2 separate regions of the Homo sapiens genome follow, and region 2 is linked to region 1. A link means that fine-mapping ties the variant in region 1 to the expression of a gene that starts in the linked region. Tissue or cell type: atrial appendage. Region 1 holds a variant in brackets; the other region holds the start of a gene. All regions are shown on one strand. Distances are between the middles of the regions.

The links. PIP is the estimated chance that this variant, and not a neighbour inherited with it, causes the effect.
Region 2: it holds the start of PRR16, and the variant in region 1 is fine-mapped to the expression of PRR16 in atrial appendage (GTEx, PIP above 0.99).

Annotation. Positions count from the first base shown.
Region 1 is chr5:120,052,099-120,054,860 of GRCh38, reverse strand. No RefSeq gene overlaps it. Among named protein-coding and RNA genes, the nearest start is that of PRR16, 410 kb to the left of the region's middle. The variant G/C (reference allele first, on the strand shown) is at 1,525.
Region 2 is chr5:120,463,111-120,465,872 of GRCh38, reverse strand. It overlaps PRR16 (proline rich 16), which reads right to left and starts at 1,573. Exons shown (of 2, transcript NM_001300783.2): 1 at 1,228-1,573. The coding sequence starts at 1,386. RefSeq lists an enhancer at 698-1,199 and a silencer at 1,605-1,654.

The sequences.
Region 1 (2,762 bases):
GGAAGTCGCACTCTATCACCCGGCTAGGGTGCCGTAGTGCGATCTTCGCTCACTGCAACCTTTGCTCCCGGGTTCAAATGATTCTCCTGCCTTAGTCTCCCGAGTAGCTGGAATTACAGTTGTGCACCACGACACCTGGCTAATTTTTGTATTTTTAGTAGAGACAGGGTTTCACCATGTTGGCCAAGCTGGTCTCACTCTCCTGACCTCACATGATCCACCCGCCTCGGCCTCCCAAAGTGCTGGGATTACAGGCATGTGTCACTGTGCCCAGACGAATCAGGATATTTTAAAACCTCATCTGTCTAACTATGGCTAGGAAATTTGCTTTTAGTCCTACGATGAATAAAATAATAAGTGACACTACTGTACATCAGCTAATGGCTGAACTGCTAGAACTAGAACTACTAGCACCGTATAGATGTCTCTGAAATTAACAAATGCTCAACAGTCACACGTATTTCTGGAATATACTAAATTATACATAAAACTAATAACACCCTTGCAAATGTATTTTAATACTTATAATATTTAATTACTAACAATCTGTGGATAAATTTTATAAATATTTTAATGTTATTTTTTTAACACGTTTAGTTGCCCATATGAACTTAAGCTAAAATTATGACAGAATTTGTTCTAAGCAGATAAAGGAAGTTTTGGAAAACTAAAACTTGCTTTGTTGTTATCCTTCACCAGAAGGTTATTTTGTACTGATTTTAAGCAAAGATAAGAGAAACTGGTTATTGCCGTATTCAGCCTAATTCCTTTGACAAAATACCCAGGAACAGAAGCTCATATTTCATTTGTCCCAAATGGCCTTCCGGTTGCTTAAAATACCCTTATTATTCTTGGACTAAGAACATGTTCATTTTTCTCATATTACTCTGAGATTAATTTTGGCAGTACGAAGACCTACTGATTGAAATCTATAAATAAAATAGAATAGGAAATGTATAATAGTCTTAATTTGAATAATATTGCTTTCAAATAAATAACGATGAAATTCAGTTCTGTAGAATTTGAAATATCAGCTTTTATAAATTTTGCCAAACATCTTGTATCTGAAAAATCTCAAGTATTTTAGGGAACCTACTGTTTTACTAACATTGAACGTTCTTACAGAATTGAACATTCTCATGTCTTTACACCCCTATCTAGATTAAAATTTGCTCTGGTAAGTTTGTACTACACTGAAGACGTAAGTCTGCATTTTGCTCTTTGAAAAAGCCAGGCATATTTATAGCTCTCTTCAGTGGAAAGATAGAAACAGTGACAACACTTAAGTTGAAAAAAAAGAAGGAAGGGAGAGACATGGAGGAAGGGAGGGAGAAAAAAGTAAAGAAGATAGTCAATATAAATATAATTTAGTTTCTCAAGACAGCCAAAAAAGTAAACAAATGAATAACTAGTGTCTGACAGAAATGTGAAAGTTCCAGGAACATGGCAAATAAAATCTTGGACAAAGACATGTGCAGCGGAACATTCAGCACCCTACAGTTTGAAGTACACCATGTACTCCAA[G/C]ACTTTGGAGATCAGGACACTGTTTGTGTCCAACACTTCATAGACATTGGCAGAAAACCCCCAAAAATGTTTTCCTGCACCTGGTGGGTAACTAACTATATCTCTAATGAAAGGGTTTGTATGTTCTGTAATGTGTTAACAGGATAAAAGAACATGTATTTATGAAAATGTGAAGGAAAGATGGAATAATGTAGCCTCTTTATTTTTTGTAACTGACCTAATCTTCTTCCCCCGGGATGGGTGGATGGAATTGAAGTTTGCTTAACAAGATTTTGCAGTCCTCTCCAGTTAAAACTGTTTCTTCCAGACTCTTTTATGTAAAGCCCCAATGGTTTAAACTGTCTTTTCTTTTCCTTGTCATTTCTAAAGAGGGTATGGGATGCTTAGGTAATCTCATGGTGCCAAGAAAGAGAGTCTCATTTCTGCCCTACAAAGGATTCTAAATGGCATGCTCCCTCAAATTTTAATCATTTTCTTATAGCACAGGGGGAAAGAATATTCATTGTTGATTAAAGGAATCATAAGTGGAATATTTCTATTAATTTTTACGTAGAGAGACAAAAAATATCACCTGGGCTCTATCACAAGTCCCCACAGCTCTTGAGTGCCATTCACATAATGGTTGGCTTCAATTCATTCTATGAGTTTAAGATGAGTAGCAGCAGTCAGCATAGCCCTGAAGATGTTTGTATTTCTGCCATGTTGGATTGGGTGCCTAAAGTTAAATTTTTATTTGTATACCAAAGGCAAATCCCACAATCTCAGGGTTGTCACTGTGAAAAATAAGATGCAATTCTCCAGAATAGATCTTTTCAACGTTTTTGAAAACGAGTCTGTTCCCGTATCAAGTCACATGGTTACTAACAAAAGATATACAATGCAGATTCTAATAAATCAGAAAGTCATCACAGCCAGAAAAAGCTTTATCTCAAACTGATTCAAAAGCATATGATTGATAGATAAGAGATAGGAAGTTTTGACAAACTGACTACTTGATGTTCAGTTATAGAGAATTTCCAAATTCCCATAACCTCAAAATGACAATCTTTCATAGGAAGTTTCCACTTAAAGAAATTATTTAGTAAGAATGAACTGGCAAAGATGAAGAACGGAAATGACATGTAATAGGCTGTTAACATAACCCTTGGGTCAGATTAAGATGTAATGCTACAAATAATGCCTTTACAAATGTATTTTACTAACAGGTTTGTTCTCTTAAGGAAAGAGGGGCTGATGAT
Region 2 (2,762 bases), 410 kb before region 1:
CCAGTCATCCAAACAACCCTCAGTCTCCTCCCCGTTGGCTTCAGAAACAGGATTACAATTTTGGACCTAGACTACGCCCCACCCCTTTTCCCGCTGCAGCCACCGCCACCTTCGAAGTTCTAGTCTTAGCTCTCACGCAGCGGAGCTGCGGACTCCCTCACCGAGAACCGCACCAGGACCCCATTCAGTAGTGAGCGGCGCGCTGGGACTCTGCTACCAGCTCCGCGACGCCGCCGGCAGCCAGCCTGGCTCGGGAGACCCCACCCCTCCCAGCCCGGCCCCCGCCCCCGCCCGGAGCCGCCGCCTGAGTTACGCAGCCTCAGCCCTGACACCTTCTCTGCTTCTTTCCATCTGGATCACCTGGGGCTAGGGGCGGGCGGGAGTAGGGCTGAACCGAAGTGGGATAGGAAAAGCGGGGAAGAACCGAAGCAGTCCCAGCTGCAGAGAGCCAGGACGCCAATGGCAAGACCCCGGCCACACATACACTCTCCTGCGCGTCCTGCTTCTCGGGTTCAATGCCAAGTGGCGACAGGGTGGAAGGAAGGAAGCAGAGGTAGGGTGGCGGGAAGGCCCAGAGTTACTGGTAACGACGTTCGGAGGAGAGCAGGGGATGCTTCAGAAACTGAGAAAGTGAGAAAGTCCCAGACCCCCTCCTTAGCCCCAAGGCTGCCAGCAGCCCGGGTCGCCTTCCCTACAGCGAGGCTCGAGAGACAGGGAGGGTAGTCTGAGCCAAGCTTCCTCCAGGCTGCCCTCCCTGATCTGGCCCAGGGCCCAGAACCCGGCCCCTCTTCAGCCCTGACTTGGGGAGGCTGACAGATAGGCAGCGGACTTGCCAAAGGACTCTGGGGAAGCAATAGGGCAGGAGAGGAGCATCTTGCACGCTCCAGCCGGGCTGCTCACGACTTCCTCTGCCGACACACCCCCAGCTAACCCTCTCCCCCGTCGTCACACACACAGATTCAGAGACACGCGTGCGTTCATCCCTCCCACCAGCCCAGGTCCATCGATTAAAACACTAGTTGATTTCTTCCTGATTAAAAAAAAAAATTAAAAAGTGCAACAACAACTCCTCTCAGGACTCCAGGAGCAAAGAAAGTCCGTCTGCAGGCGCCTTTTCTGTAGTTTCCCAGGAGTTTGGAAATCTGGCTGTCCCTGCTGAAAATCGGAAAGGGGACCCCGGAGGGGTCGAAGGGTGCCGAACTCCCTCCCCACCCCTGCGCCTCTCACCTCCTTAAGTTCCTTGGCCACGTCCTTCAGGTCGCCCAGGACTAATTCCAAATCCTCCACGATGATCTTGATCTGTTCCTTCACCTTGGTTTTGGAGGCTGCCGGCGGTCCCTCGGCTGGACAGGACGAGGAGGGGTTCCCCTTGGACTTGGCTGACATTCTTTGGGGGCAAGCGAGGCAGGTCAGGACAGGCGGGCGAGCGGAGGCTGCTGCGTGCCCCCGTCCCTGGCGCTGCTACGGCCGCTGCCGCCCCGGTCCCCCCACATCTTGGGCGCTCCCTGGGCAGCGGCGAGTGGCTGCGCTCCGCGCTCGGCCGGGCGGCCGCACAGTGGTGCTGCCATCAACTCCCGAGACGCGGCGCTCGGCTCGGGGCTGCAGACGGGCGAGCAGCGCGCCTGCGCCTCCTCCCGCCGCCGCCCGGCGCTCTCGCGCACACGCGCTCGCTCCCCGCCCGCGGAGAGGGGCGCCGTGCTGCCGCGCCAGGGTTGACGCTTGCAGTCCCCTCGACGTTGCCCTTCGAGATATCTCCCAGATGCCACCTTGGCATCAAGGTGGGGGAGACAAGTCCGTGTCCTGCCCGCCCCCTCCTCTTGGTTCTGAAATGTCCCCATCATCTCAGCCTGCTTGCTGTATGTCATCTCACAACTAGCCTGGATTCTTTCTGCTTCACTTGCTAGCAGGGACCTGGATCAATTCAGAAAGAACCACAGTGGGATCAGGAGTTGGAGACAGTCTGTAAAGTGGCCCTACAGATTTATCCAAACCCAAATGATGTCCAGAGGCCTTTAATCAATCTCTTGGTGACCTGCGAGTTAAGCAGACTTCTTAACTTCTGCAAGAAAAAAGGGGGGGGGGGGTGCACATAACAGCTAATGGTCATCTATTGAAACCATGAAATTCAACCAGTGTTCTTGAAAGAGGTACCCTAATCCTGCTAATTCCACAAAGCTAATACCGGATTTATTAATTTGAAGTCCCCACACCCCAAATCCTCTCTGATTGTCTCAGTCATCTTGGCTGTATGTCTTATTTGGCCCAACTCTTTTTTTTTTTTTTAACTGTCCTTCCTCTTTTTGTGACCTATGCTGATTTACATTTTGAGTGGAGTGGGGGAGACATCGTATTTGGACCTCGTGAAGGAGCTGAGTAAGAGATTGCCTCCAACTTCTCTTTCATCATTTTTTAAACCTCCATTTCAACTCTTTTGCTACTAAACAAATAGGAAACAACTTTCTGACTGTTCTGTCAAAAAGACCCAAGAAGGGAAGTTAATAGGAAGCCTTCGGTTCACTCTCAGTAGGTGTCTACAATTCTCATTAGCTAGAATTTTAACTTCCTTAGTTGTAAACCCATGGGCTATTAGCTACTGACCCAGCAGGCTGGCTCTACTTTATTTTCTTCACTGCACACTCCTCCAGATCATTCTTTTAATAGGCTTCCCCTTTTCGTCGTGCCTTAGCAAGGCTCTCTGTTTCTTGCTTCTCACACTCTGGGTAGCTCCACTGTGCTACACATAAAGAAAAGCTTGGCAGCTC